3 separate regions of the Homo sapiens genome follow, and all the other regions are linked to region 3. The links come from fine-mapping of genetic effects on gene expression. A gene starts in region 3. Each other region holds a variant in brackets. All regions are shown on one strand. Distances are between the middles of the regions. Region 1 holds the start of MOB3C (MOB kinase activator 3C). Region 2 overlaps EFCAB14 (EF-hand calcium binding domain 14). Region 3 holds the start of ATPAF1 (ATP synthase mitochondrial F1 complex assembly factor 1).

Evidence for each region.
Region 1: its variant is fine-mapped to the expression of ATPAF1 in whole blood (TOPMed, PIP above 0.99).
Region 2: its variant is fine-mapped to the expression of ATPAF1 in esophagus mucosa (GTEx, PIP 0.95).

Annotation. Positions count from the first base shown.
Region 1 is chr1:46,610,446-46,618,748 of GRCh38, reverse strand. MOB3C (MOB kinase activator 3C) reads left to right here and starts at 1,938. Exons shown (of 4, transcript NM_201403.3): 1 at 1,938-2,038; 2 at 5,378-5,845. The coding sequence starts at 5,428. RefSeq lists a silencer at 1,764-2,043 and enhancers at 2,444-2,513, 4,865-5,488. The variant C/T (reference allele first, on the strand shown) is at 3,742.
Region 2 is chr1:46,691,609-46,699,911 of GRCh38, reverse strand. It overlaps EFCAB14 (EF-hand calcium binding domain 14), which reads left to right. Exons shown (of 11, transcript NM_014774.3): 4 at 3,263-3,361; 5 at 7,975-8,085. EFCAB14-AS1 (EFCAB14 antisense RNA 1) reads right to left here. Exons shown (of 3, transcript NR_038828.1): 3 at 7,814-8,038. Among named protein-coding and RNA genes, the nearest start is that of EFCAB14-AS1, 22 kb to the right of the region's middle. The variant AG/G (reference allele first, on the strand shown) is at 4,546.
Region 3 is chr1:46,663,721-46,672,023 of GRCh38, reverse strand. ATPAF1 (ATP synthase mitochondrial F1 complex assembly factor 1) reads left to right here and starts at 3,660. Exons shown (of 9, transcript NM_001394565.1): 1 at 3,660-3,967; 2 at 6,660-6,768. The coding sequence starts at 3,702. It overlaps TEX38 (testis expressed 38), which reads right to left and starts at 170. Exons shown (of 2, transcript NM_001145474.4): 1 at 53-170. The coding sequence starts at 89. It also overlaps the pseudogene NENFP1. RefSeq lists enhancers at 3,211-3,360, 5,156-5,684, 5,685-6,214 and silencers at 3,873-4,043, 3,471-4,090.

The DNA of each region.
Region 1 (8,303 bases), 53 kb after region 3:
TAGCTCCCACTTTCACCATTCCTTCCCCACACTCCTGCAGCCTGGGGTTGACAGCCTCTGCTCTTGTGAGCCCTTTGGTGATACACTGTGTGGTTTCCCTACACCTTGACCATACCTGTAAATAATGTCTTCATTAAACATACCCATTCTGGGTGTTCCATGTGCTTCCTGCAAATACCCCGACTCTTACAAAGTCCGTCAGTCCACAACCACATTCTCACTTCTGGGTGACTGAGCTGTGACCTTGTGTATCTCTGTGTGTTGTCCCCTTTACTGACCTGTCAGCACCTGAGGTCGGCAACCAGGTCAGCTTTATCACCCAGTCCCCTGATCTGATATGAGTGGAGAGTTATACTCAATAAAAGATATTGATTAGGATATCAAATAAATAAAGAAGCATAGTTTAATTTGCTCCATAAGCAAGTGTTTGTTTATAGGGGATTCAGGGCAGAGAGTTAAGAGTCAGACATAAAAATACAGAGAACTTTAGACTGGGGCAAAAATTGGTGCTCAACAAAAGAACATACCCACAGTTCTATGAGCTGGGATTCTTTCTTTACTTTTATTTTAGGTTCAAGGGTACATGTGTAGGTTTGTTATATAAGTAAACTCTGTGTCATGGGGATTTGGTGTACAGATAATTTCATCACCGAGGTAAGCAGCATAGTACCTGATGGGTATTTTTGTCTCATCCTCCCTCCTCCCGCCCTCCACTCCCAAGCAGGCCCCAGTGTCTGCTGTTCCCCTCCTAGTATCTATGTATTCTCATTGTTTAGCTCCTACTTGTAAGTGAGAATATGCAGTATTTGGTTTTCTATTCCTGTGTTAGTCTGCTTAGGATAATGGCCTCCAGCTCCAGCCCATGTTGCTGCAAAGGATATGATCTGGGTTAAGGATCTAGCGTGTTCTCATGTCATCCAGCAACAGAAGGTCCAGACACAAGGGAGGTCCAGTGTGCCATGGTAAATGCCCACCTCTGGCCTCCAGCTCTCCCCTACCCGCATCTACTCACCTCCCACCCCTCCAGAGTGGCTTCTATGGCTAAGCTCTCTGCTTTGGGCTTCCTACCCTAGAAAGCCTCCAATCTTCCCTCCCATCCCAGACAGAGCAGCCAACTGGTCCCTGGGCCTGGGGGCCACGGTGTGCATTGAATGCTGGTGGGATATCTGTCTGTCCTCGAAGGAACCCAGGTGGTAGGGAGAGCAGATCAGATCTTGAGTGGTTTGGATTTGTCAGAAGGAAGGAGGGAGAGAAGGTATTCTAAAATGGAACAGCTGGGATAAGGGTCTGGAGATAAGAAATGGGGTGACTCTGGGTAAGGAGCAAGGAGAATCAGCCCAACCTGAGCCAGGCCCCCTCCCTGGTGAGGAGATGAAGTTTGTGATTTGAGCGCTCTTCTGGGGCTTGTCCCTCAGGGGTGAAGGACTCAGCTCATGATTCCCAAGGCGTTCATTTATTCCTTCACTCACCCATTCATTCATTCATCAAGTGGGTTTTGAGTTCCTGCTATGTGCCAGGAGCTGAGGATATGGGAGTGGATAGGACGGTCCCGATCCCTTATTGGGTCCCGGGACAAGTGTGACGCAGACGATTCTAGGAGGGCAAAGAAACCACCCTTATCTAGCAGCTCTTGTTTCTGCTCCAGAAGAAGCCGAGCGTTTTCCCATTTTACTGTCTGGGAACTTGAGGCTGCCTCCTTGGTGGAGGTCCAAGGAAGCACCGAGAGGGCGGGCAGCTCAGTTAGTCCTTTGTCCAAGGGGAAGCTGGGAGCCCCATATGGACTTTCCGGGAAGGTGGGGGCGAGTGCGTCTGTGTACTGGAGTGGAGGGGAGTCCCCTTTCTCCGCCCCTCCCCGCCCCGTGGCCGCGGCGTGGCGGGGCCGGGGCGGAGCTGGCGTCGCCCGGGGCAGGAGGGCAGCCGCGGCCGGCAGGACAGGCAGACGGACAGGCTGACAGGAGAGAGAACAGGCACTGCGGGACCTGCAGGAGAAAGGCGATCCTGTGGCTGGGAATGTGACCCCACGGCCAGAAGAGGACCCGTGAGTGTGCGCCGTGCCCCTGCGGCCTCGCCGCGCACCCCGCCCGCCTGGCTTCCACTTTCATTTCTTCGGCCGTCCTGGCGTGGCACAGTCCGGAGGAGAGTCCCGCCCGAAGGCAGGCTGGCCGCTGTCCTGAGGCTGGCGTCCGAGGCTCAGAGCTTCGAAAGTTGCGGGGGGGATTGTCGGGGTGGGGGAGTACGGGGCAGAGGGGAGGGGTTGGGGGGCGTGTTTTCGGGGAGCGGAAATGTCAGGCGGGCTCCTCTGGGTCCTACGACCTTCCTGGCCCTGGGAGCTGGTTTGAGGTTGCAGGGAAGCCGGGGGTGGGCGTGGGTGGCTGCGCGCCGCGAGGAGAGCGTGGAGTCTTCGCCTCTACTTTTTCTCTTCGACCTCTGTCCTAGAGAGAGTCCCAGGATGGATTCTGGGTTCAAACTGGGGCCATCCTCTGGCCCAGATCCTGGGCCAGGCCCAAGGAGTGGTAGATGTAGCCTAGCAGGGGGCTAAATATCAGAAACAGGTAGGGTCAGCCTGCTGTCTTCATTTGAGAAGCCCAGATCCGCACCCAGGGAACGAGCAAGGCACTGCCACTCCAGGAGTGAAAGGATAGCCATCACTGGGAAATGGGGGCTAGGACGGGGAACGGCAGTGGTTCAGGGAGAGACAGAGGTTCTGTGACAGATAGAAACTCAGTGAGGGCATGGGGGTGGGGAGTGAAGGGAGTTAACCCTGTGGCTAGAAGAGCACCTGCCCTGCACCCACCCCCTGAGCTTACATTTTCCTGGAAAGAGACCCAGGCCTTGAAGTTCCACAGGAGTAAGGTGGAACTCTAGCTCACTGGTCAGGACACCCCAGTTGCTGTGCGGAGTCAGTGTGTTGGGGACAGGAAGCAGGTTGGGCTGTTTGGTGGAGAAGATGCTTCCACTGTCCCTCCACTCCCCTCCTCTTCTCTGTCTCCACCAGACCATTGATGAGCCAGTGCAGGAAAATGGTCTTTTACTCTTGGTCATGAGCTGAGCCCCACCTTATCCCAGTTCCCAGTTCTGCTTGTAACTTGCTATGTGGACACAGGCTCCTCAAGTCCTCTTTTTAGGCCTCAGTTTCCTCATCTGGGCCTCAGTTTCCCCATCTGTACAAGTGAGTTGGGCCAGCTGATCTATCAGGGCTATTTTAACTCTAAGATTCTAGTCTAAGCTTTCCTTAAAGCCTGAACACTGACTTTGTGCCAGGCCTTGTCCTAAGCTGGGGGTGGGTTGGGGATGGAGTGGAGACTGCAATGACCAAAAGCAGCCTCTACCCAAGGAGAAGGAGATCTGAGTTCAGGAGAGGAGGCTGTGGGAGGAGGTAGCAGCCAATCTGAGGATGTGTGGTCAGGCAGGTGGAGGGATAAGAAAACATGCAGAGGCAAAAGAGTGGGGGCGTGTTCAGGAATCAGGAAGAAGCCCAGGGTGGTTGGTGTGGGGAGGTGGGAAGTGGGGCAGGAAAGGTAGGACAAGGTGCTGAATGCCAGGGTGGGGGCCTATTTCTAACTGTCATAAAGGGGGCCATGCAATGTGGGGAGCCCAGGAGCCCCGCCTAATTGCAGTGTGAGGGATTTTGGAAGCACTTGCCCCAAGCAGAGTTTAAAATGGAGATGGCAAATGAAGCGCAGAAATCTCTTTGCTCTGGAAACTGGGGTCCCACCCTGGGGACTTCTTTGGGTGAGAAGT[C/T]GAAGAGTCGGGATGGATGAGATGACCTTTCACATCTGTGAGTTTTTTTCAAGAGAACAAGTTCCTGCTGAATGGCCTGTTTCTACTCTCCAAGCTGCTCTCATTTTACCAGACTGCCCCCATCCTGGCCTGCCTTTGTGGGTTCAAGGAAGGACCTTTGTCTCAAACAGCTCCCCAGCTAGTTTGACTTCTTGCCAGAAGTAATACCCCTCCCCGAAATATGTGCCATCCCTTTGCTTTTACCCAGGTGTCACCTGGTTCCCACCCTCCCTTCCCCAATCCTGTCCCAGGGTTACCAGAGATGTGAGAAAGGACAGTGCTCCAGCGTCAGAGGTCAAGCCCAGGCTTTGGCCATAAGCAAGCCTCAGGGTAGGGCTAAAGGCTAGAGTCAGGGCTCACACTTGCCAGAGCCCAGGTCAGAGGTCAGCCAGGAACCAGAATGCAATTCTTAGCTTATACTCAGCCTTAGTGCTCAGTCTAGGGGCAGGGGCAGTGTGCTTAGTGGGTGGCTAAATTCTAGTTTTGGTAGGTACATGGGTCTGCATTTCCCAGTAGCTCACACACTCACAGTTGAGATGAGATGACTCAGGTCTTAGAAACCTAGCTATAGCAGAGTGACCCAGGACCTGGATGGGCTAAATCCATGGTGATACAGGGGTCACCCAGTAAGCCAGTGGTAGAGCTGGGACTAGAACCCAGGACTCCTGCCTCTGAGCCTAGGGCCCTGATCACTGTCTCCCAAAATTTGTTCTGAATCTGGGATCCTTAAATTCTAGGAGGCAAAGTAAATTTGCCTGAGCTCTAGATGGGCCCTCCTGGGTGCATCTGACTATACTCTTCTACCTCCCAGTGCCAGGCACATAGTAGTTGCTAGAGGAATGTCTACTGAGTGTCAGGTGCAACGGGAGGAGCCAGTGGCTTGTTCAGATTTGGGGCTGGAGGAGGCTGGCTTGAGGGGAAGGATCTCCAGCTGTTGTCAGAGGAAGCGACGCCCTCATTGGCCTGCCGCCCTCCCCCTCCTCCAGTGCTTGCAGCCACACTCAGAAGCCGCCCAGCTGGCAGCGGGAGGGCCCTTTCCTCTTTCAGGGTGAAAAAAAAGGAAAGGACATTTTTGGTAGAAAAGTTCCCTGCTGCTCCCTGGGAATCCCCGGTGGCCGGATGGACTACGGGATATCCCAGAGGAAGCCGAAAGCCACCCCCGACCCCCCTCCACCCTGCCCCCAGCACAATGCTGCGAGGCTCTCCCACGTTGCACCAGCTGGCCAAGGGGGCTCCCAGAGGTCATCTCGTCCAAGCCCCTGTCTGCTGGTGGGCCTGCAGGGAGCCTCTGCGACCTCTCTCGTGACCAACAGCAAGTCTGAGGGGCACCTGTTTAGAGCCCAGGCCCAGCTCTGCAATGAAAGCAGAAAAGAGACAAAGCAAGATGGGAGGACTGTGGGGGCTTAGCAAGGGGGACTAACATAGCCTGGAAAGAGGGCGGGGCACTGGACCTAGGGGCTGAGGACTTAGATTCCAGGCAGAGGATGCAGAGGTTGAGCAAAGGCTGAGAGGTGACAGGGAAATGATGAATTGGGAAGTCAGAGCCCAGATGATAAGGCCTTGACCGCCAGCTCCCCTATGCCCTTGTCCCTGGCAGGGTATCCTCAGGTCCGAGCCCCTGGACAGCAGCCCCAGGCCCAGCTGGCCATGGCCCTGTGCCTGAAGCAGGTGTTCGCCAAGGACAAGACGTTCCGGCCGCGGAAGCGCTTTGAGCCGGGCACACAGCGCTTTGAGCTGTACAAGAAGGCACAGGCCTCTCTCAAGTCGGGCCTGGACCTGCGCAGTGTGGTGAGGCTACCACCCGGGGAGAACATCGACGACTGGATCGCCGTGCACGTGGTGGACTTCTTCAACCGCATCAACCTCATCTACGGCACTATGGCGGAGCGCTGCAGTGAGACCAGCTGCCCGGTCATGGCCGGCGGGCCCCGCTACGAGTACCGCTGGCAGGACGAGCGCCAGTACCGGCGGCCCGCCAAGCTCTCTGCGCCGCGCTATATGGCATTGCTCATGGACTGGATCGAAGGCCTCATCAACGACGAAGAGGTCTTTCCCACGCGTGTTGGTGAGTGTCACCTGGCGGGGAGGGAGCCACTGGGAGCCCATTCCACAGATGAGGATTTAGTTTGATATAGACACTCTGCAGGGTTGGGGGTTGATTTTCATCCCCATTTTGTGGAAGAGGAAAGCGAGGTTGAAACAGGTTAAGTGCCTTGCTCAAGGTCAAGCATTTGCTAGGACTTCCTGACTCCCAATTTGGGGCTTTTCTTTCTTTTCTTTTTCTTTCTTTCTTTCTTTTTTTTTTTTTTTCTTTTCTGAGACAGAGTTTCGGTCTTTCACCCAGTGGTGAGATCTCAGCTTACTGCAACCTCTGCCCCCCGGGTTCAAGCGATTCTCCTGCCTCAGCCTTCTGAGTAGCTGGGATTATAGGCACCCACCACCACGCCTGGCTAATTTTTGTATTTTTAGTAGAGACAGGGTTTCACCACATTGGCCAGGCTGATCTCGAACACCTGACCTCAGGTGATCCACCCACCTCAGAGGGCTTTTCTTTTCTAAAGCATAAGTGGTCCCACCAAGGACCACTCTGGCAAGACCACAGATGCTGTGATTCTCAGAACCTTCCAGAACAGTTGCCCCGAGGTGTTCATAGCTGATTTGACCTCCAGCCTCCCGGGGTTCCCTCTGACTCCTGGCCTCAGGAAAAGGAGGGAGTTGGTGGTTGGGTGGGCCCTGGTGGTATCATCACCTCAGATTGGGGCTCTGAGGACAGAATTTTCCCTTGCCAGGCACAGGCTGTGGGGCCTTTTCTTATCTCAGCTGGGCAGCCTGGGCGGGTGAGGGTAGGGAGGGGAGATGAGTGATGTCACCCAGGCACTGCTTACCCACCCGAGGGCAGCAGGAGGGGGTTGTTGGTCCAGGAGCTGAGCAGGCATGACACTGTGTTCATCACACCAGCCGCACCTGTAGCTGGGCCCAGCCCCCACCTGGCCTGGAGCTCATCTCTGCAGAGGCTGTGTGGATCAGCGGTGGGTGGGGCAGGGTGGTCAAGCCCTGAGGGGAGAAGTCTGAATGCTGAAGGAAGCTGGGCACTGAGTCACAATTCAATGCCCACGGCTCCTCCCCAGCCAGTGGCCTGCTGTTTCTTGCACTGTCATGCCCGACAAGGAGCACCTTCATTTTACATAGGAGGAAACTTGAGGCTACTGAGGGAAAGTGCACTGAACTGGGAGGAATTCCGAACTGGGGCTCAGATCTGTGGGAGCCCAGGACCCCAAGTCTACATGGGCAGGATATGTCTGAGGAATCTGGGCTGGGCTGGAGGGGCTCAGAGGGAGGGAAGGCTCGACCCCACCTGGGAATGGTGAGGAAGAGGAGGGGGTCTACAGAGCCGGGTGGGCCAGCTGTGGACCTGAATGTAGATTCATAGTCCCTGCTGGCCATACCTCCCTGGGCCTGTGGGACTCCAGGTATCGATGCCTAAAACCCTGGGTGACTGCCACACAGAGAAGAGGGCATAAGCCACCAAGATCTCTGCCTTGAGCATGGGGGACTATGCAGAAGCGGGGCCTTTTTCATGGGTCCCAATATCTGTGAGGGTCGCTGCAGTGCACTGCAAAGAGGGTCTGAATCCAGTCTCCATTCTGCACTGATTAATACTTATGTGGCCTTGGGCTAGCAGCTTCACCTTTATAAGCACTTCTGTTTTATCATATCTAAAGTGACAATCAGACACATCAGGCGAATTGTTCTAAGGATTAGAGGCAAAAGGTGTGAAGGGCCCAGCACAAGGCCTTGCTCATAAATGGAAGGTTCTTCGTGTTGTTGAATATTTGAAGGAATGAGGGCTGTCTGAACTAACTCTTGCAGAATTCATAATTTCCAGGATTGGGGGTCTGAGGACTTCTGTGTGAATGTTGAAAAGAGGAGGGACATGGGGTGGGGCTAGAGAGGGAGGTCAGGATAAGATCATGAAAGGCCTTGAGCAGCGTCCTGCTGGAAAGTTAGGACTTAATCCTGAAGGCCCAGGGATTTTTTAAATGGACCCAGTTGTTGAACTCTCCTTGGAGTTGTATACAAGAGTGTGATGTGAGCATCTCTGCAATTGCACATATTTCTGGGGAGAGTTTAGGTCGTAACTTTTATCATAGTCTAAAAAGGGTTGGTCAGTGACCCCCACAAGTTTGCAAAGCCCTGCTTTAGGTAATGGGAAAATGTGGAAGATGATGTATATTCCAGCAGGGGAGAGCCACAGTCAGATTTGTGCTTCATTAGAAAGAAAAGTATGGCCAGGCACAGTGGCTCATGCCTGTAATCCCAGCATTTAGGAGGACGAGGCAGGTGGATCACCTGAGGTCAGGAGTTCAAGACCAGCCTGACCAACATGGAGAAACCCTGTCTCTACTAAAAATACAAAATTAGCTGGGCATGATGGCACATGTCTGTAATCCCAGCTACTTGGGAGGCTGAGGCAGGAGAATACCTTGAACCTGGGAGGTGGAGGTTGCAGTGAGCCGAGATCA
Region 2 (8,303 bases), 28 kb before region 3:
AGTGACTAATCCAAGGAGAGCAAAGAAGAAGGCATAGGACCTTTTGTGACCTAATTTCTAAAGTTGCCAGTTGTCACTTCCACTTTATTCTCTTCTGTAGAAGCAAGTTACTTATGTCAGGCTACACTCTAGGGAAGGGGAAGTAGGTTTCACCTCTTGAAGGGAAGAAGACTATCAAAGAATTTGTAGACATATTTTGAAACCATCACGTATCCTTATAAGATAGTTGTTAAATAGTTGTTGTTGTTATTATTATTATACCCAGTTACTGATGAAAAGAATAAATTCACTACTTATCTAGCCTTATCTCCTACCCCCCGGCCTCTGTCTTCTACTCTGCTTAGACTAGCCTTCTCAATGTCCATCCCAGACACAGAGTGTTAATTCTCAGCCATTCATTCAACAAATGCCAGTCTTTGTATCACGGGTATTGTGGAAAGTAAAAGAGACATGGTCCTTGATCATGTGGAGCTTATAGTCTTGTGGAAGAGAGAAACCTCAATCAAATAACCACCTAAACAAATCATTGTCACTTTGAGAAGTGCTATGAAAAGAAAGTACTCCTGAGCCTGTTCATACTGTGTTCCCTATCCCCCGATGCCACCCTCACCCTTCTAACCTAGAAAGAATGCCTGCTTGGTTTTTATGTATAAAATTCTAACTTCTCTGTCAGAGTCCAATTTGAGTCCTCCTTCAGCGAAGCCTGTTTCTTTCAGCTTGCATTGATATCCTTTTCTCAGAACTTTATTCAGTATCACGTTTAATGCTTAATTGTTTCTTTAATGTACTCTTGCCTTGTCTCTCAGTTATATTGAAAGCTCCTTGAGGTGAGAGACCTAAGAGTTTCCCTTAATTCTTCTATCTTCCCCACTGTTAACACCCAGTCCCAGCAAATCGTATCATCTCTACTTCTGCTACTACCTCTACTACCACTCAAGTCTAAACCACCATTATCTCTTGCCGAGACTACACAGATCTCCTTCTTACTGGTCTCTCCATTTCTACTGACAGCCATAGTAGTCTTCCTCCAAGGTGTCTCCATTCATGTAATTATCCTGCTTACACACCCCTGCCTATCACACCTCAAGTAAAACCCATGTGCTTGTTCTGGTTTACAGAGTCCTGTCTGTTCTGGCACTTTACTGCACAACTGGCCTCACCACCTACTTTGTCTCTCTGTCTCTCTCACATACACACACACATTATGAGATCCTGCCACCTAAACTTCTGTTCTCTGAATATGCCAAGCTCTTTCCTGTACTGGGACTTTTGGTCTAGCAGTTCCCTCTTCCCTGAAATAGGCTTCATCCAATCTTCATATGATTAATTCTTTCTTACTATTCAGATCTCAGTTTAAATTTTATCTCCTTACAGAGGCCTCCTCAGACCGATCAGTCTAAAAGTTGCTACCCAGTCACTCCTGTCAAGTTACTTTATTTTAATTTTTTTCTAGTGCTTCCCACTATCTGATATTTTTCTATATAAAAGTGTCTGTCTGCTTGCACTAAAATGTAAACACCACAGGATCCCTGACATCTGTGTTGTTCACCAGTGGTGAATAATAGGGTCCAGTAGTATTTGTTTTATTAGTGAGTGGCTGAAAATTCATCTTAAGCCTCTGAACTTTTGCCTTCTAAAAGAAAAGAGGGAAAAGAGAACTTGAGTTCCCGAGTTCCCAGGCTCCTTACCAGACTCCCTGTCTCAGACCAAGCTACTACTACTTACTCAGGGAGCTTTGTTTAAATTAAATTCTTTGCATAGCCGGACATGGTGGCTCATGCCTGTAATCCCAGCACTTTGGGAGACCAAGGCAGGTGGATCACTTAAGGCCAGGAGTTCAAGACCAGCCTGGCCAACATGGCGAAACCCCTATCTTTACTAAAAATGCAAAAATTTGCCAGGTGTAGGGGCATGCACCTGTAATCCCGGCTACTCAGGAGGCTGAGGCACGAGAATCACTTGAACCCAGGAGGCAGAGGCTGCGGTGAGCCAAGATCACTGCACTGTACTCCAGCCTGGGCAACAGAGCAAGACTGTCTCAAAAAAAAAAAAAAAAAGAGAGAGAGAGAAAGGAAAAAATTCTTAGCACAGTACTTATTACAATCTGATTTCTTTTCTTTGTTTTTCTGTCACCTTTTACTAGGATGTATGCTCCATGAGAGCAGAGCTTCATGGTCTTGTTTGCCTCTCTGCTGTCTCCACAATGACTGCAGCAGTGTCTGGCACAGAGATGCCAAACATTTGCTAAAGGAATGAGTAGGGAATCAGGTTCTGTTTTGTCTTACACCCCCCAGTGCCTACCACTGTGCTTGGCCCATAACAAGTGCCCAGAAACTGGTGGGTACTCTGAGGCCACTCTGAATATAATTGCTATTGGTAGATCTGTGTTCTCATCCTAGAATTTAGAATGGGAAAGCGGTTTAGAACTAAGAGTCTTTCAAGTGTTTCGAGCCAAACTGCAAAGCTTTTAGAATATTGTCTCTGCAGCCTGAAACTGACTATTACACAGGTTCCCCCAGTTCCCATTCAAGAGCGAAGTCTAGATGTTTAGAATTCTATGCCTAAATAGCAGAACGGAAGCCTCATTTTATTTTGATTAAATTCCTATTTTAATACATACATTGCATCAGTCAGTGAGTCAGTGAGTATTTATTGAGCCCCTTCAGGATACAAAGTAGTGCTCTGGTAGAGCTATTGAGTTTGAAATATTAGTCACATTTTTAAACCAAAACCAAATCCCCAAGTAGTTGAAAGTGCTGTTCAAATTGTCAGAGTGCAGTTCCTGTAGACTGTATTTTGTGAGATGGGCTTTTACTTTATATGTTCCCACTTGGGCAGGAACAAAAGTTTGGTAAATTACTGAGGTATTACATTTTACCAAAATGAAATTTTGAAGTGATCCTTCATCATTAGCTTTCTTCCTGTCCAATTGTTGAGGGAGTGTGTGATAATTACAGCATCTTTTGAGTAATTTAAGATTTTGGGATCTTGTGCTGCCAGGACAGGGTAAAGAATAACACTTGCCTTCACTCTTTGACACTAGTGTTCAAATTGGGCAGGGAAAGAAGGGGTATTATTGTTGCCTCCCAGATCCCAACTCTATCCAAAGTACTGTCTCCTTTACTTCTGTGAGCTGACAGGGTTGCAGAAACACATAAAATCCTAGACTATCTTGACATCACCAACCGTAGAGTTTGTGAAGGTAACGTGTCCTCTACAAATTCTCATTTGTTTTCATTGTTTGTTACTCTTTTTTGTTCAGATTTCTCTGTTGACTTCTGCAGTGAACCACCTCAAAGCCAATGTTAAGTCAGCTGCAGACTTGATTAGCCTGCCTACCACTGTAGAGGGACTTCAGAAGGTAGGTGCCATGTGTGGGTACAGAGACTTCAGAAGGTAGGTGCCATGTGTGGGTACTATTTGCCATAATTCTAGCTTCTTATAAGTTTTCATTGAAAGCCTAGCATTTGAAATCAGCTGCTCCAAGAGGGCAGTAATGGAGTGTATCACTGTGTCCTAAAGAATTCAGAACAATTTTGTTTTGGTCTGGTTAGTTAGGCCTTTAATTTGCAACAGGTTACCTCAGCTGTGATTTATATGGGTTCATACCTTTTTATTTGGCTCTCTGAGTCCCAGAATTGCTCTGCTGGCACTCTTGTGTTAGCATATATGGGTTCGCTTTTCAGCTTGCTTTTTCAGTTCACCACTCACAATATCTTCATCAAAGCAGACCAATTGTACATGATAGTTACCCTAAATCTCTGTTACTTTCCATAATTAAGAAAGTTAAAAAAAAAAAAAAAAGATGACCTGGGGAAATGCAAAAATTAAAAATTCAGGAAACAAGTGTTGGCAAGGATATGTGGAACGAAGGAAATTTTCAAACACTCCTGCTCCTGCTAGGAGTATTAATTGGTAAAAATCACTTTGGAGGCTGGGCATGGTAGCTCATGACTGTAATCCCAACGTTTTGGGAGGCTGAGCCAGGAGGATCACTTGAACCCAGGAATTACAGACCAGCCTGGGCAACATAGGGAGACCTCGTCTTTACAAAAAATTTTAAAGTTAGCTGGGCATGGTGGCACACAACTGTAGTCCCAGCTACATGGGAGGCTGAAGTAGGAAGATCACTTGAGCCTGGGAGGTTGAGGCTACAGTGAGCTGTGACCAACCAGATGAATAGTACTCAGGGATCCTTAGAGATGGACGGGAAGAGTGGATAGGGGTAGGAAGGCAGAAGAGGTGCCTAATTCGAACATAAAGAACATCATCCCCTGACACAGGAAATGGAAGAAGGGATTCCCCAAACGGTGGATATCAAATCTAGGATCTTTGAATTATAAAAATATGTGCTAAGTTTGGTCAGATTATGTGCCAGGGTCTATGAGCATATGAATTCTTTCCACAAAGGAGCAAGAAATTTCTAAGCCATAAGCGAAGACAAAATTTGCTATTTTATAGCCACACCATCTGTGTGTGCTCAGTCTCCATAATTTGCTACTTGTCCAATGTGGCCATCTACTTACAAATTCGGGGGGAAAAAAA[AG/G]GGGTAGGGACAACTCTGATGAGGCCAGATTCTTGCCGTTGTTCCTAGGGCCAATTCAGGAAATGATAGGCTTCTGTAGCCATTAGTACAGAAGCAGCTCTCACAGTCTTGCATTAGAAAAGGAAACTGGTTTATTCTTTTTTTTATTACACTTTAAGTTCTAGGGTACATGTGCACAACGTGCAGGTTTGTTACGTATGTATATATGTGCCATGTTGGTGTGCTGCACCCATTAACTCATCATTTACATTAGGTATATCTCCTAATGCTATCCCTCCCCCCACCCCAAAACAGGCCCCGGTGTGTGATGTTCCCCTTCCTGTGTCCAAGTGTTCTCATTGTTCAATTCCCACCTATGAGTGAGAACATGCAGTGTTTGGTTTTTTGTCCTTGCAATAGTTTGCTGAGAATGATGGTTTCCAGCTTCATCCATGTCCCTACAAAGAACATGAACTCATCATTTTTTATGGCTGCATAGTATTCCATGGTGTATATCTGCCATGTTTTCTTAATCTAGTCTATCACTGATGGACATTTGGGTTGGTTCCAAGTCTTTGCTATTGTGAATAGTGCCGCAATAAACATAAGTGTGCGTGTGTCTTTATAGCAACATGATTTATAATCCTTTGGGTATATACCCAGTAACGGGATGGCTGGGTCAAATGGTATTTCTAGTTCTAGATCCTTGAGGAATCTCCACACTGTCTTCCACAATGGTTGAACTAGTTTACAGTCCCACCAACAGTGTAAAAGTGTTCCTATTTCTCCACATCCTCTCCAGCACCTGTTGTTTCCTGATTTTTAATGATCACCATTCTAACTGGTGTGAGATGGTATCTCATTGTGGTTTTGATTTGCATTTCTGTGATGGCCAGTGATGATGAGCATTTTTTCATGTGTCTGTTGGCTGCATAAATGTCTTCTTTTGAGAAGTGTCTGTTCGTATCCTTCACCCACTTTTTGATGGGGTTGTTTGATTTTTTCTTGTAAATTTGTTTAAGTTCTTTGTAGATTCTGGATATTAGCCGTTTGTCAGATGAGGAGATTGCAAAAATTTTCTTCCATTCTGTAGGTTGCCTGTTCACTCTGATGGTAGTTTCTTTTGCTGTGCAGAAGCTCTTTAGTTTAGTTAGATCCCATTTGTCAATTTTGGCTTTTGTTGCCATTGCTTTTGGTGTTTTAGACATGAAGTCCTTGCCCATGCCTATGTCCTGAATGGTATTGCCTAGGTTTTCTTCTAGGGTTTTTATGGTTTTAGGTCTAACATTTAAGTATTTAATCCATCTTGAATTAATTTTTGTATAAGGTGTAAGGAAGGGATCCAGTTTCAGCTTTCTACATATGGCTAGCCAGTTTTCCCAGCACCATTTATTAAATAGGGAATCCTTTCCCATTTTTTGTTTTTGTCAGGTTTGTCAAAGATCAGATGGTTGTAGATGTGTGGTATTATTTCTGAGGGCTCTGTTCTGTTCCATTGGTCTATATCTCTGTTTTGGTACCAGAAAAGGAAACTGGTTTATTCTTGAATTTATTCATTCAATAAACATTTGTGGAACTTCCTCCAGTATGTACCAGGCACTTTGCTGTTGATGGGAATACTAGTTTCAGAGTTTTGCTCCAGAGTTCACATGGCTCTGTCAGTTGCTTCCTTAGGGGAAAAAAGAAAAGAAAAAAAAAATCCTTAAACAAGAGCTTACTATCTTCTGGCATCCCAATGGGTTCATACATCCAGCCAGTGAGGATTGGATTCACAAACAGTAGGTGTCTTTGAATGCCTGTAGCTTTTGCAACAGGCATTCAGAGCTTACATAGATAGCAACAGAGCTTACATAGATAGCAAACCAGCTTAGATACTTTTACCCAGTGTGTTGTCTCTTTGCAAATCTGTGTGTTTATCATGCCAGGCACTGTGTTTCTTTCAAGTGGCTCAGTTTTGAAGTGGTAGGTCATGCCAAATACCTAACTTTATTGTATCTCATGTAATTTTTATTAGTGTCATCTCGTGTTCTCTTGGATTCTTGGATATCAGTGTAATAAAAATGACCTTGGTTAAAAATACTAATGTGGCACTGTAAAACTGTCAGCATGTCTTGAAAAGGCCAAAACTCACTGAATAGTAACACCCTTTTAGATGTTCCCTTAGGACAGGCTTTTTTTAAAACATGGCTTCTGAATTATATCTCCAAGTTCCCTGTCCACTTGGGCTTTTTAGGGCTAATGAAAGCAAAGTAAGCCACTACTCATATCCCTATTCAGTGGTTGCTGACAGGATTCTACTTTTTTTTCATCTCTGCAGTATTGAGTTTCCCAAAGCCAGATATGGTTCCCTCCCACTTTTGCTCGAAGTGTCCTTTGCTCCTAACAAGTGGCAGTCTACTGTGTTAGCTCGGCCATCTGCCTTCCCACAGCAGGGATTGACAGAGGCAGTTTGTGAGAGAACCTTATCCCTGGGTTCCAGATTTATAAACTAATATTTTTTCTTTAGGGAAGATTTGGTTTTCCTCTAGGAAAAATCATTTAAATTAAGAAAATTACTTGTTTGATTGATAGAGAAAGAGTCCTGTTAATTATCTCAGTATACACTACATGTAATCATAGTTTGAAGATATTTGAAATAATCAGAAACACCGATTTTCATTAGGGCAGTGTTTCATTAGGGCAATGTAAATTAAAATCACAATATACACTTCCATTAGAATGGCTGAAGTTGAAAAGAATGACTGTACCAATATTGGTACAGGATTGGTGAGGATATGGAGTAACAGGAACTCTCATTCCCTGCTGGTGGGAATGTAAAATGGCATAACCATTTTAGAACATTGTTGGGCAGTTTTTTAACAAGTGAAGCATAGACCTGCCATATGATCAGCCATTCACCTGCTAGGTATTATGGCGATTAGAAAGCATATGATAAAGGGGAATGTCTATAAGTCCACATGAAGACCTGAACACGAATGTTTATAGCAGCTTCATTTGTAATAGTCAAATATTGAACACAGCCTAAATGTCCATGAGCAGGGGGAGAGATAAACTGTGATAGAGCCACACAATGGAATGCTGCTCGGCAGCCTGCCAAGTAGCCTCAACATGGATGAATCCCAATTCTGCTGAGTAGAAGCAGCCACACTTTAAAAAGCACTACTTGCTCACTGGTTCTACTTATATAAAATCTAGAAAATGAAGACTGATTTATTGTGACAGAAAGTGGATCAGTGGTTGCCTGGGAACGATCGGCAAGGGAGTGATTACAGAGAGTCATGAGGAAACTTTCAGAGGTGATGAGTGTTTATTATCTTGATTGTAGTACTGGTTTCACAATTGTTTATGTGTCAAAACATTCAAATTATACATTTTTGAATATGTACAGTTTATTGCATGTCAGTTGTCTCTTAAAGCTTTTTTACACCTTCCTATATGTTTCCATTCAGAGTGTAGCTTCCATTGGCAATACTTTAAACAGCGTCCATCTTGCTGTGGAAGCACTACAGAAAACTGTGGATGAACACAAGAAAACGATGGAATTACTGCAGAGTGATATGGTAAGGAGACCCAGCAAGTCAGCATGCTCCTGCTCACCCTTTTTTGTGTAAGAGTCATGTTGCCAACTTTCCACTAATCTGAAAAGGCCCTGCTATGCATCTGTTCAAAAGATCTAATAAGCAGTATACATTGATTGTTCTACAATTTGTTAATAAAGCAATTATGGTAGATAAAATTAAAAGCCAAATCTTTTGCAAACATAGTACTGGAGGAGGTA
Region 3 (8,303 bases):
TCCCCAAGCCCTAAGGCACAAGTCCAGTGACAGGGACTGGAGGAGCACTTACTCCCAGGGAAGCGCAGGTCCTCCTGTTGGGAATCCATACAGCTGAGCTTTGGTACCTGGCCGATGGCTCTGGGGAGAGGGAACTCACCCACCCATCTGCCCAGCCAGTCAGCCCATCTGCCCAGCCAATCAGAGTCTCCAGAATGCCCAGGCCCTTTGTTCTCTAAAGGAGAGGTCACTGGGTTCTGAGAATTGGGCATTCTAGGGGCAGTGCTTGTGAAGTGGTCCTGGGTTAATGGAAGGAGGGGACTTCATCCAGTGGCATTTTTTGGGTGGAATGTCACTACTACTTCCATCAGAGACTGGTTCACCTATTGAATTGTCTGTACCTACCCCTTATGGTGAACCCACAGAGCAGACCCCAGAAAAGGGCCATTGTCCCTCAGGTACTTACGGATGTTGCTGGTCTTTAGGGAACGGTTGATGGGATACCTGTCCCCAGTGAGGAATGTAACAAGGAACACACAGCATTGGGCAGCCCTGTTCTCAAAAAGTATCTAACCAAGTTGGCAGGAAGAAACCTGCTCAAGGGAACCAAGTGGTCAATACCTCCTTCTTTGGCTCCAACAATCTGTCTTTTATTTAATTACCTTCCTTCAAGTGCTGACAAGTGTTTCCCAGGCCCCAGGCCCTGTGGGGCTTCCCACCATCTGGCCTGCATCTACTTCCAGCCTTACTTCCCTCCTCGTCCTCCACACACTTTTCCCTTTTGCCTAGTCCGTACTCCTGAACAGACCCTGCTCATTCACATCTCTGGAGGTGTGCCCATGCTGCTCCTTCACCCAGGAGTGCCCCTGCCCACTTTTCCACCACTGAACACCTGCTCATCCTTCAAGACTCAGCTCAGCCCCCCTACTCTGTGACAGACTGCCCAGAATCATATCATCGCCAATTTGAAGAAACTTTGAGAGTTGTCTAGTTCATCTCCACCATCTGATCCCACCATCAGGGCCATGCTTGACTCCTGGGGGTAGATTTTTCCCCACACAGCAACTAATCTCCCTGGACTCAAGACTCACTTGAGTCAGGAACTTGCTCACCACCTCCTGAGGCAGCTTGATGCATTTATGGGCAGCTCAGTTAGAAAGCCCTTCCCTAATTAAGCTTAAGTCAGCCTTCCCAGTATGTTGCACCACTGCTTGTAGCTCAGCTTCTTAGCACCATTTTAATGACTCCCCTCTTTATAGTCCTCCAATGTGTGACTTAGGGAACTATTTAGCACAGAATTCTCTCCAGGGTCCACTTACCCTTGTTCTCCTCGTATATCACTGGCCCCTACTTTCCAGTCTCCTTTGCTGGTTTCTCCCTTTTCCCCTGATCTCTAAATGTAGGCATGTCTAGGGCTCAGTTCTTAGTGCTCTATCTACATTCATTCCATCAGTTATCTCACCCAGACCCCTGGCTTTAAATATCACTATACACTGACAGTACGCAACTGTATCTCTCCAGCCTGGAATGCTCCTCAGAACTTTAGACTCATACCCAAATACCTGGTTGACATCCCTCCTTGCCAGTCTGTTAAATTATCCCAAACCAACATGTCCAAAACCAAACTCTGATTATCCATCCTCCAAAGTCTACCCTACCTACAGCCTTCCTCCTCTTCATAAGTAGTATCTCTGTCCTTCGGGTTGTTCAGGCCAAAAACCTGCAAGTCATCCTTGACTCCTTTCATTCTATCACACCCACACTGACTCCATCAGCAAGATCTTTAGGCTTTTATTTCAAAATATAACCAAAATCTGGCCACTTTTTTTTATCACTATCACTTTAGTCCAAGTACCACCATCTCTCACTTGGATTACTGTTCCCTGTAGGGTGACCAACATCCTGGTTTGCCCAGGACTTGGGGTGGGTTCTCAGGACATGGGGCTTTCAATGCTAGAGCCAAGAAAGTCCTAGGCAAACTGGAATAAATTAGTCACCCTTGGGAGAGTTTCCATCCTTGCCTCCACATATCCTAAATCCCACCAGCAGCCAGCATGATCCTTTTAAAAAGTAGATCATGTTACTCCACTGCTTAAAACATATAGTAACTTCCGATCTCATTCGATTTAAAATCAAAGTCCTTAACCAAGGCCTAAGCAATCTAACTAGCCCTCCCTATACCTTCTTGGTCTCATTTCTGCTGCTGTGCCCTCACTCATTCAGACTCAATAACCTCCTCATCAGGGCCTTTGCACTTGCTGTTTCCCCTACCTGGAAGGCTCTTCCCCCAGCATTCCCACATTACCTTCAGGTCTCTGCTCAAGTGTCCCCTTATCTCTATCTCTCTTGGCCTGCTGTTTTTCTGCATACCATGTAGCATCACCTAACATTATATATTTACTGTCTGTTTCACTCCACTAGAATGTAAGCTCAATGAATTAATATAAACAAGGATCTAAGAACTTCAGATAATGATAACTGCTATAAAGAGAATGCAATAGAGTGATGGGATAAAGACTATAAAGAGATGGAGGGGTTGTCATTTAGGTCCCTTGGAGGTGCTTACATGTGAACTGAGCCCTTAGATGATGAGGAGGCAGCCACATGCAGATCCACAGAGAAAACAGCAAGTGTTAGGAGTGTGAGCCAGGTATGGGCTGGCATACTTGAAGGACTTATTCATCTTCCATTACACTGTTCCTCGCACAGGGCAGGGCTCAGGGCTGATCTCCATGAGCATAGGTTGGATTGAGCAGAGTTGAAGGCTCTGCCCCTGTCCCAGGAGGGGCTTCAATCAGACAAAACCCAGACAAGAAGGACCTGATGATGAGTACTGTCCCAGAGAGCCCACTCCAGGACTGGCCCTGTTCTGTGAGCAGGTGGGACACAGAGATGTTAATGTCACTGTCCCTGACCCTAGGAGCTCACACCTGGTTCAGACGGTAAGGAAGATTGTGGCATTTGGGTTGAGAGAATGGAAGGAGAGAGGATTCCAGGGGTCAAAAAGGGCCTGAATAAGGACTCTTCAAGGAGTAATCCTGGTGTTTCTTTGGGAGAGAATAGGTCACTGTGGCTGGAGTTCAAGGAGGATGTCAGGAAGCAGAGGAAAAGGAGGCTTGGGAGGCAGCTGCCATCTTGAAAAGAGCTCAGCTGTCGGGTAGAACTTGAACAAGTCACATAATTACTCTCGGCCTCAGTTTCCTTATTTGTTAGATGAGGATAATACTGCCACACAGAGTATGAAGCCGCTCAGTGTCCTGCACATAGCAACCTCAGTAAAGAGAAGCTTGCTGCTGTGATTATAGTTGATGAAAAGACCTTCGATGCTGAAGGACGGACTACTACATCGAGTGCCTGGCACTACAGCGAGTGCCAGGGGCAAGCACCGCGAGGACATGGAGATCCGCTGGCTTTAGAGAACGGACTTGGCGCGCAGAGGCTGCTGGTCCCAGAGGGAGGAAGGGCGTTGAATTTGGGCAGCCTCCCTGGAGGAGGCGGGCCGTGGCATACACAGGGCGGCGAGAGCGCGCAGTGCCGGGGCCAGAGCGGCGCGCCCCCTCCTCCCCGCCCCGCCTCGCCGCTATCCCGCGCCCGGAACCTTGGGCGCGCGGAACCTCGGTGCCGGAGCGCGGGCGCGGCGCACTCGGAGCGGGATGGAGCGGGCGCGCGGGCCGCGGGCCGAGGCCGACGCGCCTGAGGAGGAGGAGGAGGCGGGGGCGGCCATGGCTGCTGTGGTGGTGGCGGCTGCGGGTGGCGCGGGACCGGCGGTCCTGCAGGTGGCCGGTCTCTACCGGGGCCTGTGCGCGGTGCGCAGCCGCGCCCTGGGCCTGGGGCTCGTGTCACCCGCGCAGCTGCGCGTCTTCCCAGTGCGCCCCGGCTCGGGCCGGCCCGAGGGGGGCGCCGACAGCAGCGGGGTCGGGGCCGAGGCCGAGCTCCAGGCCAACCCTTTCTACGACCGCTACCGCGACAAGATCCAGCTGCTGCGCAGGTGCGGGCCTGGGTTGGCTGGAGGCGGGCAGGAGGCGGGAGGAGGGGCGGCCCGGGCTGCTGGGCCTTAGGACAGCCCTGTGAGGTGGGCACTAGTACTGTCCCAGCTCTTCAGATGATGTAGCCAGGCTCCGCGAGGCTAGGTCACTTGCCCAAGATCACACAGCTAATTGGTGTCAGAGCTGGGAGTCTCTGCAAAGCCCTGGCTCGTTCCACGTTTGTCTGCTTTGGTTCTCCAAACGCTAAGGTGGACTCTTATGACAGCCCTGAGGCAGGCAGCTCAGAGACACCTGTCCTCATTATAGAAATGGGAAAACGCCTTCTAGAGAAGGGACTTGACTTGCTCAAGGTCACATATTAAGATAGCTGAGGCCTGGCTCAGAGCTGGAGTTCCCAGGCTGGTGGTAGCTTAGGGCCTTGACTGCAAGGAAAGGCGACTGGGGATGGGAGGAGGGCATCAAAGACTAATAGTGTCACAGTCGGATCACCCATTGAACCCTCTTAAGGAGACTGAGGATCAGCGAGAGTAAGAGACTTGCCAAAGGTCACACAGCTGTTTGGGATTTGTCTGACTCTGAGTCCAGGGTCCCTAACACCACCTCTTAGCTTCCAGAGGGAAGGATCTGGAGCTTAGAGGGGCTTAAGGTGCATATGAGGGGCTATAGGAGCATCTGAAGAGTTCAAGTGGGAAGAGCTAAAGGAGATCAGAGGTGAAAATTAAAGGGGCTTGGGAGAGAATTTAGCAGGGTAAGAAGGTAGTTGTCTTATGAAAGGAAACCAAAGACTTAGTACTGTAAATTTGAGTTCTGTCTCATCTCTACTTCCACTGCCTTAATCTACTCCATCATCGTCACCTGGGCTGTTGCCATTATCCTCTAACTAGAGTTCCCTACTTCCATTCCTGGACTACTTTACCCCAGTTCCTCTCACTGCTACTGTAGTGATCTTTCTTGCCATTTGAAACAGTTATGCAGTAAATGAATGAGTATTTTTGCTCTCCTTCCAGCAGCATTGAGATAGTCTCAAGTATTTGTCATCTTAAAAGCCTTTCTTTGATGTACATTCCCCTCCAGGCTTCTCTCGTTGATCTGTATTTGATCTGTTTTACACACAAGCATCTCTGAAGAGTTGTCTACTTGTACTTTGAATACTTTATCAGCATCCATTTATTCTTACCCACTCATGAACAAATAAATAACTGGTTTTACCGTCCTTCCCCACTGGATCATTCCCATCAACATTTACACATACTGTTATCCCCCCACTGACCTCTAAATAACATCCAAACTCCTTAATGTTTCACACAAGTTCCTCATACCCTAGTCCCTGCCAGTCTCTCTCTAGTTTTATCTGTTAGCAAACTTCCTTTGAAAAAGAATGGAGAGGAGGGGATGTTCCAGGTAAGGGGAGCAGCAACATAAACAAAGGTACAGAGGCATGAAACCACCTTAACCATTTGGGGATGTTTGAGCAAATTTTCATCATAATACCTGTTGTACTTTCATTTGTTTACTTTTATGCCTGTCTCTCCCACTGGATAGTGAGCTCCTTGAGGTAGGGAGTCTGACTTATTTATTTCTATATCCTCAGATCCCAGCAACAGCTTCACTGCCCAGGCTGTCCCTTGCCCTCTCTACCCCTTCACTATGGCAGGCCCAGTTGCAGCTGTAGCCACTAGCAGGGTTGACCCTGGTCCTGGTACAGCCCCCAGGGCTGCTTGCAGCTCTGGCCAGGCAGGTGCCATGCCCGACTAAGCAGAAACCCCTGGTGAGGCTCTTTATTGAGGAGGAGCCGGCCCACTACAGAGAGAAGAAAAACATCCCATCTACATGACAGTGAAGGGAGTGGTGTTTTATGTCACCTCCAGAAAGGAATTTTATGGAAGAAGGGGCCCCCTATAATGCATTGACCAGGAAAGTCCACCAGAGGGATAGCCAAGATGTCCCTGGGTCCTCCAGACCTCACCCATGAAACTCTGGGTCTCATGGCCAAAGAGCTGGAATCCCTGGATGATATCTTCACCAAAGTGTACAAAACCAAATATCCCATGGTTAGCTACACAGTCTGAAGAATTCTTAATAGGGACAGCACCCCAGCCTGGACTTCAAACCTGAAGACCAACCCCATTTTGACATAAACAATGTGTTCTGTTGTTTCATCTCCAAGAGCAGCTTCTTTGGAGGGTAGGTTAGGGAGATACTCAGATGCTAAATCTTCTGCAAAATAGGCTACCTAAAGCCTCTGAATCACCAGGATCTGAATAAAGCAGATGTTTAACCTGGTTGGGGGGACATATTTTCAAGAACTGGATGTATTCAAGTAAAAGCTTGACACCTAGTAAGGAGGCTATAGGATTCTTGTCTGAAGAGGTGATCCAGCAAGATGACCTCAAAATTCTAAGTACCCTGAATGTAAGTACCTGAGAGACTAAGCCCTGTGTAAACCTAGGGAACAGCCTGCAAAAGAAAAATGTTACACAGGCCCCTTGAGGATTAACAACAGTTGAATAACAGGATTTCTTTTTCCAGTTTCTTTATTTCTAGGCCTGTGCCCAGTTCTTACTAACTGAAGGCAAATTTTTCAACCTCTCTGAATGGCAGTGTCCTTTCTCTGTAGAGGTGGAAAGTGATGCTTTGTTATTTTAGAATTCAAAAAGGCCCAGTTGGTTTACCCTTTGGTTTACCTCTGATCAGGTCAGACCCAGCTGCTTTTGAGTCCCGCCTGGAGAAACGCAGTGAATTTCGGAAGCAGCCAGTGGGGCATTCCAGGCAAGGTGATTTTATCAAATGTGTGGAACAGAAGGTAAGACCTTCCCCCATTTGTGGTGTTTGCTTACCAGCACTCCTTCACCCTCCTTACCCTCACCCTTATCCTTAAAGTTGGTTTATTGATGGGTCAGCTGGGTGAACTGAACATAGTCTCTCCCAACTCCATTTCCATCCATAAATGTTTATCCTGCTCTTTCTAGGCAAAGTACTGTGGTCATGGTGGAGATATAGAAGTATGAGAGGGGTACTTCCTGCTCCCAAGAGGAGCAGTCTGGTGGTCAAGGCAAGGCACACATGGTAGTAGGCTAGAGGTATCAGAGAAAATTTCCCATGGGAGATGGAACCTGACCTAGGCTAGGAACGTTGTGGGGGATTTAAATTAAGTAGAGAGGAAGGAATGGGACTTTGATGTAGAGCAGGGGTCATCAAATTTTTTCTGTAAAGAACTAGATGTTAAATATTTTAGGCATTGTGGGCCGTATGGTCTTCTTTGTGACTACTCAGCTCTGCCATCATAGTGCAAAAGCAGGCCTAGACCGTACGTAAATGAATAGGTATGGTTCTGTCCCAGTAAAACTTAATCTACAAAAATATTTGGCAGACTAGATTTAGTTTCCTGACAACCAGCCAACCCTGCCAACCCACCCCCATCCATTCCCATGTTGAGGAATTAGCTTAAACAGAGGAAGAGCTTTGAAAGTAAAAGGGGTTTCAGGAGACAGCAAGGTACTATGCCCAGTTAAAATGGAGAGGGAAGTGTTAAGGCTAAAGAAATAAGTTAGGCATTAAACTCTTTGGGCTTAAGGAGTACAGGCAGGATAATTTAGCTGCTAAGAGGATGGGCTCTGGGGCCAGATGCCAAGGACTGAATCCTAACCCTTCCACTTACTAGCTGGGTGACTCTGAGCAAATTGTTACTTCTCCATGCCTCAGTTTGCTTATCTGTAAAACAGGAATAATAACAGTACCTACTTCACAGAGTTGTGCTGAAGAGATAATACCATTTAAAACTCTTTAGCGCCGTCTCTGGCATAAGTACTTAATATATATTAGCCATTATTATCCTTAAATAGGAATCAAAGCTGAGGAAAAGCATGTTGAAAACTGTGTCTGGGAAGATTATTCTAATGCAGTGTTTTTCAAACTTTTTGACCATGACCACAATAAGAAATATATTTTACATTGCAATTCAGTACACATGTAGGTATATGATTGTAACTGAAAAAAAAATGTATAAAATAATGCTAACTTTTACAACATGCAGTCCATTCTTATTACTTTTTATTCTCTTTCATCTTTTAAAAAACTCTGATCACAATCCACTAAATGTATTTCACAACCTATTATTTGAAAAATTCTAACCTAGGATGGTGCACAGAACAAACTGGTGTAGGAGAGGCCAGCGCCAGGGAGAATATGGAGTAATCCAGGTGTGGGCTGCAGAAGCCTGAATTAAGGTAGTTACAGTAGAAAATTGGGATTCTACATTGTGTTTTAAAGTCAAATTAGAGGTGTTTATTTTACTTGGAAAATACTTTTTTTGCCTTGGGTATCCTGAATTTTAAGTGA